Linked DNA regions of Homo sapiens: region 1 is linked to region 2. The links come from fine-mapping of genetic effects on plasma protein levels. Region 2 holds a variant in brackets. A gene starts in the other region. All regions are shown on their reverse strands.

Region 1 (4,383 bases), not on the chromosome of region 2:
ACTCATCTCCAAAAGGGGAGCAACAATACTTATTTTTTTAATTTTGTCGAGGCAGGGTCTCGCTCTACAGGCTGGAGTGCAATGGCACAATCACAGCTCACTGCAGCCTCAACCTCCTGGGCTCAAGCGACCCTCCCACTCCAGCCTCCTGAGTAGCTGGGACTTACAGATGCATGCCACCACGCCCCCGCTAGTTTGGTTTGTTTGTTTGTTTGTTTGTTTGTTTTTGAGACAGAGTCTCCTTCTGTTGCCCAGGCTTGAGTGCAGTGGAGTGATCTTGGCTCACTACAAGCTCTGCCTCCTGGGTTCACGCCATTCTCCTGTCTCAGCCTCCCGAGTAGCTGGGACTACAGGCGCCCGCCACCACGCCTGGCTAATTTTTCTGTATTTTTAGTAAAGACAGGGTTTCACCATGTTAGCCAGGATGATCTGGATCTCCTGATCTCGTGATCCGCCTGCCTCAGCCTCCCAAAGTGCTGGGATTACAGGCGTGAGCCACCCCTCCCCGCCACGCCCCGCTAGTTTTTTTTTTTTTTTAATTTGGGGCTGGGCGTAGTGGCTAATCCCAGCACTTTGGGAGGCCTAAGCAGGTGGACCACCTGAGGTCAGGAGTTCGAGCCCAGCCTGACCAAAACGGCGAAGTCCCATCTCTACTAAAAATACAAAAATTAGCTGGGCATGGTGGCGCATGCCTGGTCAACATGGTGAAACCCCGTCTCTACTAAAAATACAAAAATTAGCCAGGTCTGGTGGCAGGCACCTGTAATTCCAGCTACTTGGGAGGCTGAAGCAGGAGAATCACTTGAACCCAGGAGGTGGAGGTTGCAGTGAGCCGAGATCGCGCTATTGCACTCCCGCCTGGGTGACAGAGTGAGACTCTGTCTCAAAAAAAAAATAATAATAATAATTTCTTTTGTAGAGACAGGGTCTCAGTATGTTGCCCTGGCTGGTCTTGAACTCCTGGGGTCAAGTGATCCTCCCATCTCAGCCTCCCAAATTACTTACTTTTTAAAGGGTGGTCATAAGGGTGAAGTAAGAAAATGTACATCAAGACAAGCTGCAAAAATCTAAAGCACAGAACACAAGTGAGGGCACTTGCATCTCAGTTTACCCTCCGCTTGAATAGATACGGGGAATAAACTAAACACGAGGGTGACACACCTTCTCCCACCTTGTCAGCTGAAGCAGGAGGCCTTCCCTGCCCACCCCATGGTCATTATCTCCAGCATCTCCAAGGCCACAGCTTTTTTTCTTTTTCCTAGTGGAAAAGAGCTGGGAAACGTGGCTTTGGCCAGCAAGGGAGAAGGGGCCATTATGTGTACCAGCAAAGACCCGATTGTTACTGAAACCAAACTGGGCTGCTTTTCTCAATTATCTCCACCACTTTTCTGGTCTCCACTTTTCAGATGCCAAGTTTTAACCCAGAACAAAAGCTGCTGTCGGACTGATTTATAATCCAGATCTGCTGACGCAGCCTGAAGTGTTCCTCCCCTCCAGGACTGCACCCTGGCTTAAAGTTACCTCCAAACCTCAGGACGTCAAGCCCCTTCACCTCTGCCTTTTGCCCCTAGCCAGGAGGTAGCATCTGTCTCCAGGTGCCCGTGGGGTGTCCTCCATGAGGACCACCTCTTCTAACCACCTGCCCAGCTCAGAGGACCAGCTGGCAGGAAAGACGCTGCACCGCCCATGAGGCCAGAGCTACAAGTTGCTTCTAGGAGTGGCTGTGGGCGGAGGCTGGTGGTTCTGAAGGTGGCGGTGGTTCTGCAGCGTGGCTCCCCACAGCCCCTTTCATCTGAACAGTAGGGCTCATGCCACTTGTTAATCAGCCTTCCAGTGGCACGAGGAGTCATTTTCTGGGGATAGGCGCTTTGCCCAAAGCGTGAGAAGCAGGAGCAGGCCCTTTCTGTTGATTGAAGGGTCTTCCTGGCTGGTGAAGCCCTTTCCAGACTTGAGGGCAGGGACCAGTGGTCCTCGGGGCCTAGAAAGAGGCAGAATTGGGGGCCAAACGGCAGACCCCTCTGGTCCGCCCCAAAAGACGCCTCGGTTCCCCCAGCGTGCCTCCCCTGGATACTCGCCTCGACGTGGCTCGCCCGCGGTCGTTCCTGCAACTGCACGGTCGGGAGTCCCTCTCCCCAGCCCAGCCCGCCCGGAGTCTTCGGGGGACACTTCAGAAAGATCGGGTGAGTGTGATTCCCCCGTGGCCATACCCGGAGTCCCTCCCCCGCCCCACCTCCCTCCAGGCGCTGTGGCGCAGCCCGCGACTCCGAGCCCCGGGGCTGCTGGACACCCGGAGGGGTTGAGGTCCGGGCACCCAGAGAGGCGGAGGTCCGAGCCCCCGGGCGGAGAGCGGGCGGGTCCACAGGTCGCTGCGGGTCGCAGCCCCCTCCTGAGCGAGCCTTCGCGGCCCGCCCCCGGCCTCCGCTCGACCCCCCCAGCCTGACGTCAAGGGGAAGGGGGCGGAGAGCCGCGGCCGCGCTGGAGAAAGAGCCGGCGCCCGCCGTGGTGGCGCGGGGAGCCCGAGCCTAGGGGCGCGGAGCCGGGCGGGGACGGAGGGGCGGTGGCAGAGAGGCCGCGGAGGGCTGGCGGGCGAGCGCGGGCAGGCGGCGACGCGGGGGCAGGGGTGGACGGCGGTCAGAGCCGAACGCGAGGGCGGCGCCCGGGGACTGGAGCTGCGCGCAATAGGTGAGCGAGGCCGGGCTTGCGTGAGGCTGGAGCCGCGGGGCCCCGGAGCCGCCGCTTTGTCCCTTTGCTTGGGCAGGGGCTGCCGGACGCGGGAGGGACAGGGGCTGGGGCGCGGGGAGCCGCGGCGGCGGAGACGGCTGTACGCGGGGATCCTTCCTGCGACCCCCGCGGCTGCTTCGCAGGGTCTCGGGAGTGGGGCGCACAGCACCTGCAGCCCCGCAGCCCCGGGGCCGGAGGGGCGCGCCAGCGAGGGTTCCTCGCGCGGTCCGGTCCGCGGCCGGGATCCTCGCCAGGCTCCTGGACTGCCCTCGGCGCTCCCACCCCCGATGGAAAGTTTGGGGCGGGCTTGGAGGGAGGCCGATGTTGTGGGATCGGATTTCCCTGCCGCGGCCCCCCGCCCGCCCGCCCATTCCGCTGGGGAGGCGGGTTGTCCCGGAAAGCCAGGCCCCCGGGCCGAGCCGGGCCGCGCCGTCCCCGGCTGGAGCGCTCGCCCTGCAGGGAGGGCCGCGGTCCACGGCTGGCCGCTCGGGGTGGGCGAGGGTGTGGGGTGCCCCGCCTGGATCCCGCACCCCTCCCCCCAACCCCTCCTCCCGGCTGCCCGTTTCCTCGCCCTGGGGGGAGCTGCGGGTGGGAGCACCGCTGCCGGGCGGATCCTCGGAGCACGCCACGGGGTGCGGCCCGATCCTCGGGTAAGGAGCCGAGATGAGGCCGCGGGCGTTTTGGGGGGCTGGTCTGGGGCGCAGCCCCCGCTCTCCCGCGCCGGGGCTCTGGGCCGACAGGGGGCGTCCGCAGGCCGGGCTCGCCACGCTCCCCGCGCCGCCGCTTTGTTTGCGTTCAAATCCCTGGAGCTGGGGGAGGGGAGAACCCGGGGGGACCCGGGACGGGGTCTTGGCGGGGACCCTTTGTTTGGGGGTGAGCAGGTCCCCAGCTTCTGCGTCTCCGCCCCTGGCACGGGAAGGCTGGAGCAGGGGAAGCCAATCCCGCTGGCCCGCCCAGGCCAGGGTCCCTGGGGCGCAGTCCCCGAGTTGGGAAGGTTCGTCAGAGTCGCGGGAGCGCAGCGGGTGCCGGCCGTGCGCGGCGCGTTGCCAGCGGCCCGGGAGGAACCCCCTCGCGTCCCCGCCCCTACCTCCCCCCGTCGCCTGCGCGCGCCGCCGGAGTCCCCGACTCGACCCGAGCTCGGTCCCCCCACCGCCCCTCCGCCAGAGGGCTGGTGTTTCGGAGGAGGCAGTGCGAGGAACAGGATGAGGCCCTGGTCATTTCCACGCCCATCCCACCCACTTCCTGCCTCCCTCTTGGGCAACAAAGGGGCCTCGGGAAGCTGGGCCCCTTCGCTCCCGGCCCTTCTCACACTCCTGCCCTGCTGATGTGGAACGGGGTTTGGGGTTCTGCAGGGCTATTGTCTGCGCTGGGGAAGGGGACAGGCCGGGACCGGGACCTCCGCTCGCAGCCGGCCGCACCAGGTTTCCCCTTTGGGGCTTTCCCGACCGCCTACCCCACCGCATGCCCTCGTCGCCCTAAGGAGTCTTCCTCCCAGAATTAGGTGTTGGCAGGGTCCGGAGCCCCAGTGGCTGCAAGGCCTGCTGCCTGAGGTTCTTTCAAGAAACTCAAACCTCTTAGGCCTGAGTGTGTATGTTGGGCGGGGGTCCCCTTTTTATTTCTCAAATGATTTCCTGTTGCGCAGAGGTAGTGGTGGGTCTGGAG
Region 2 (4,383 bases):
ACACTAGGATGATGATAATAACTTCTGTTGACTTCTTACTATATGTCAAGCACTGCATTAAATACTATATATGCTCACTTAATATATACAATAACCCTTTGGGGTAGGTATCTTATTATTATTATTATTATTATTATTTTCATTTTGCAGATGAGGAAAATGAGACTGAGATAAAGTCACATAGTTACCTAAGACCACACAGCTAGTTAAGGGGCTTCATATTCAGGTTTATGTGACTTCAAATTGTCCTCTAAATCAATGAGTGCTGATCCTGGCTCAGAACTCCACCCGAGACCTAAGGAATAACAACTTCAGAAGTTTGGTAGTAGAAAGTGGTTTATTTTAAAATAGCCCATCAGGTAATAACTATGTACAGTCCAATATGAGAAGCCTTTGTCAAGATTTACATAAAATGAGAGGAAAATTTGTTGATTGGGTAACAGTATAAGCAACTGAAAGAGTAAGAAAGTGTAAAAATACGGAAAGAGCATTAGGCAAGGTGTCCGAATTTGCAACTCTGTTCTGGGGAGTGATGCATTGCAAGGGAAGTGACACAGACCATGAAGAGGAGACTTGGGTTCCCATTCTTGCAGCTTTATGAACTAGCAGTGTAAACAGGGCAAAAAGAAGGTTGAACTGGATGGTTTGTAAGGCGCCATGAAAGAACTACAGATTTTTTATTCTAAAGCACTAAAGAATTAGGCTTTGTATGGGCATCATTTGGTTTGATTAAAATTTTCCTTGGGATAGAAGAGTCAATAAAATTGATCACAATGAGCACAAATTTACATATTTTTAGACAAACACCAATGCCAAATCAGAATTTTAAAATATTTTATCACTTTAAGTTTTCGTTATTTTTAATTTTGTTTTCCTAATTGTTGACTCACCAAGAAGCACCCAGAAAAATGACCAATTATTCAAACTAACCTCTCTGGCTTTTTCAACTCCCTTTGAACAATAGTTTAGTGTACATATTTACATGTAGAATATCATCTTATGTTCCCTTAATTTGTTGAGAAAATTTCCAGTTGAGAACAAAATGTTCATTTGAAAGTTAATTTGCCAAAACAGGTAGTTTGTAAGTCCTCTCTAGAGTCAGCTATTTCATAGGATTTGGTACATTTTAATAGCTTTGCCAAAAATTTGGATGAAGATGTGAAAAACATAAATGTAAAGCTTTCAGGCCTTGTGTGGTGGCTCACTCCTGTAATACTAGCACTTTGGGAGGCTGAGGCTGGAGGATCACTTGAGGCCAGGAGTTTAAGATCAGCCTAGGCAAAATAGACAAAAATAAAAGTAATTAGACAGGTGTGGTAGCATGCACCTGTAGTCCCAGCTACTCTAGAGGCTGAGGTGGGAGAATCAGCTAAGCCCAGGAGCTCCAGGCTGCAGTGAGCTGTGATTACACCATTGGACTCCAGCCTGAGTGACAGAATGAGACTGTCTCTAAAAATAAACAAATAAATGAAAATCAAAATTTCTAGCTGAGGCAAAGATGAGAGGGAAAAATATAAGAATACAGAATTCACAACCAATATAATAGAATAGGTTAATTCTTGCATTTATGTACCTTCTCTCACCCGCTCCCATTTTTTTCTTTTGAGTATAGGATAAAGGGATCATTGTTTAATAGGAAATTCATGTGAAGAAAACCTATATGTTGGAAACTCAAGATGAGCCTTTATGTGACATAATTTCCATAAAAGATAACACAATCTTAAAATTAGCAGATAGCATCCGTAGTAACAGAGACGATAGTCTTCAGCACTGCTCTGGGCAATGACCTTTTGTCAAGAATGTACTGAATATTGGTGCACAAAGATGATGGAGTCTTAAAATTATATCAACAATTGTAGAAGCAACTAATTGTATTTAGCATGGAGAAAGCAAGATTGATTTAGGAAATTATACCACTTTTATCTTCAGTTTTTGAATGTCTGTCTTAGGAAAATTATTATGCAGAGTAGCTCTGTGGGTGGAAGTTACAGAGACACAGATTTCATCCTAGTGTAAGAAAACAAAATAGAACAGTGGAACAGCCTGTTATGTGGAAGAATTCAAACAGAGTGTAGGTTACCTTTGGTTGGGGACTGTCAGAGAAGGGGTTTAGACAGTGGGTGGGAGGTACAGTATGAGCTAGGCCCTTTCAGATTTCCAGTTTTAGAATTATATGTTTTAGTATTTAGCAAAATAAATTTACTGATAAGTAAAATATTTAGTCACAACAGAATCCCTCCTATATGTAACACACATAATTAACTTGAAATGTAGTCCTTGTCACTAACAAAATTTTACTGATGCGATGATTAACTATACAAAGTAATGTAATTGCCAAAATTACTTCCTTAACATCTGTTGTCCACACTTCATTGAGAATAATCATCGCCAAATACTAATCTCTTCATGCCACTTCCTGGCTTAAAACACAATCATTCTGTGCTATGGACTGAATATTTGTGTCCCCCCAAAATTCATATGTTGAAATCCTCACCCTTAAGGCAATAGT[G/A]TTGGGAAGTGGAGCCTTTGGGTGACTTGGTGATTAGGTGATGAAGGTAAAGCCCTCATGACTGGCATTAGTGCCTTTATGAAAGAGGCTTCAGAGCACTAGTTAGTGACCATGTGAGGATGCTAGCAGAAGGCACTGTCTATGAGGAAGTGGGCCCTAACCAGACACTGAATCTGCCTTGACCTTGAACTTGTAGACTCCGGAATGGAGAGAAATAAATGTTTGTTGTTTATAAGCCACACAGTTTATGGTATTTTCTTAAAGCATCCAGAGCAGACTGAGAGAGATGCTCTGCACTAATAAAATAAAATAAAAAGATAAAGACAAATTTTTTTTTTTTTTTTTTTTTTTTTTTTGTGACGAGTTTGGCTCTGTCGCCCAGGCTGGAGTGCAATGGTGCGATCTGGCCTCACTGCAAGCTCCACCTCCCGGGTTCACACCATTCTCCTGCCTCAGCCTCCCTAGTAGCTGGGACTACAGGCGCCCGCCACTAGGCCCAGCTAATTTTTTTGTATTTTTTTAGTAGAGATGGGGTTTCACTGTGTTAGCCAGCATGGTCTCGATCTCCTGATCTCGTGATCCGCCTGCCTTGGCCTCCCAAAGTGCTGGGATTACAGGTGTGAGCCACCGTGCCCGGCCGATAAAGACATTCTTAATGTAACCTACAAAGTCCAGCGAGCTCCCCCCAATTAGCTTCTCCAGCTTTATGTTCCATTACCCTTCATTTCCAAATGAAACATATTGGCCTACTATTTATTTATTACATATACACCATGTTTTCATTTGCTACACATCATTTCTCATGCTGCTTTTTTCCCTGCATGGATGTCCCTCTTATTTCTAGCTGACTTCTAGTTTTATTCTTCAGATCTCAGTTTCCTTTATACTTTTCATTAATCAAGGAAGGCTTGCTGATCTTCCCATTTAGATCTGATTTCCTGTTACATGTATTCATACTCTGTTTCTCATTTATCACTGTTACAAATTGTATTTGCTTATCAAGTTATTTGATTAATGTATTTCCTCTACTAAAACATAAGCAGCCTAAGGGAAAGGGAATTTTATGTTTTTAGTTCACTATTGAACTCCTAGTGTCCCAAAATATGTGCCGATTACAATAAATATGTGTTCGATTAATAATATAAGTGGAACAGATAGCACTTACTTTAAAAGTACAGACCAATGTTTAGTGAAAGGATGTGATCCAGTGACCCTATGGCAATAAGTTAACTCTATATACTGCCTGCATTTTTTAGACTGTGTTTACTTTTCACAAAAGCCCTAACAGCTAGGATTATTATGTTATATTTGTTTTATAGGTAAGGAAATTGTATCCCTCTCAATTAACTATTTCAAAATTAATATTTATTAAGTAGGATATTTAAGATAAGAAACTGTTTGAGATTTTAAGAAAATAACCATGTGCTTGGTATACCTAGATATTATGTTCTTCAATAACTTACTTTAAATGGCATTTAAAATATTTTTCTATAGGATTGTCTTGGTTCAGGCTGGTATAACTAAATATCATAGACTAGGCAGCTTAAACAACAAACATTTTTCTGTTGCTTGGGAAGTGCAAGACTACAGTGTCAATAGATTTAGGGTTTGATGAGGGCCCTCTTCCTTGTTGACAGATGGCTGCCTTTTTGCTGTATCCTAACCTGGTGAGAGAAGGAGAGGAGGTATTCTGGTGTCCTCCTCTTCTTATAAAGGCATTAATCCTTTTGCTGTGCAGAAGTTCTTTAGTTTAATCAGATCCCATCAGAGTGAACAGGCAACCTACAGAATGGGAGAAAATTTTTGCAGTCTATCCATCTGACAAAGGGCTAATATCCAGAATCTACAAAGAACTTAAACAAATTTACAAGAAA

Alleles and levels. Alleles are on the strand shown, and positions count from the first base shown. The strength of an association depends on the size of the effect and on how common the allele is.
With allele G in place of A in region 2, the plasma level of the protein whose gene starts at base 2,478 in region 1 is higher (weak association).

What was found. A credible set is the group of variants that fine-mapping cannot tell apart. PIP is the posterior inclusion probability: the model's chance that the variant is causal. The UK Biobank Pharma Proteomics Project read protein levels with antibody pairs (Olink). The fine-mapping took linkage between variants from a reference panel, not from the people measured, so its PIPs are less certain.
Region 1: SEMA4C starts here. The variant in region 2 is the best candidate, but not a certain one, in a credible set for the plasma level of the SEMA4C protein (UK Biobank, PIP 0.51).

The regions. Positions count from the first base shown.
Region 1 is chr2:96,868,175-96,872,557 of GRCh38, reverse strand. SEMA4C (semaphorin 4C) reads left to right here and starts at 2,478. Exons shown (of 15, transcript NM_017789.5): 1 at 2,478-2,682. It overlaps LOC124908044 (collagen alpha-1(I) chain-like), which reads right to left and starts at 4,184. Exons shown (of 3, transcript XM_047446878.1): 1 at 4,140-4,184; 2 at 3,809-3,973; 3 at 1,435-3,530. The coding sequence starts at 4,184. The coding sequence ends at 2,523. RefSeq lists silencers at 2,156-2,445, 2,486-2,585, 2,616-2,685, 2,706-2,805, 3,126-3,285 and 1 more.
Region 2 is chr11:89,465,832-89,470,214 of GRCh38, reverse strand. All of the region lies in intron 2 of NOX4 (NADPH oxidase 4), which reads left to right. Among named protein-coding and RNA genes, the nearest start is that of NOX4, 23 kb to the left of the region's middle. The variant G/A (reference allele first, on the strand shown) is at 2,510.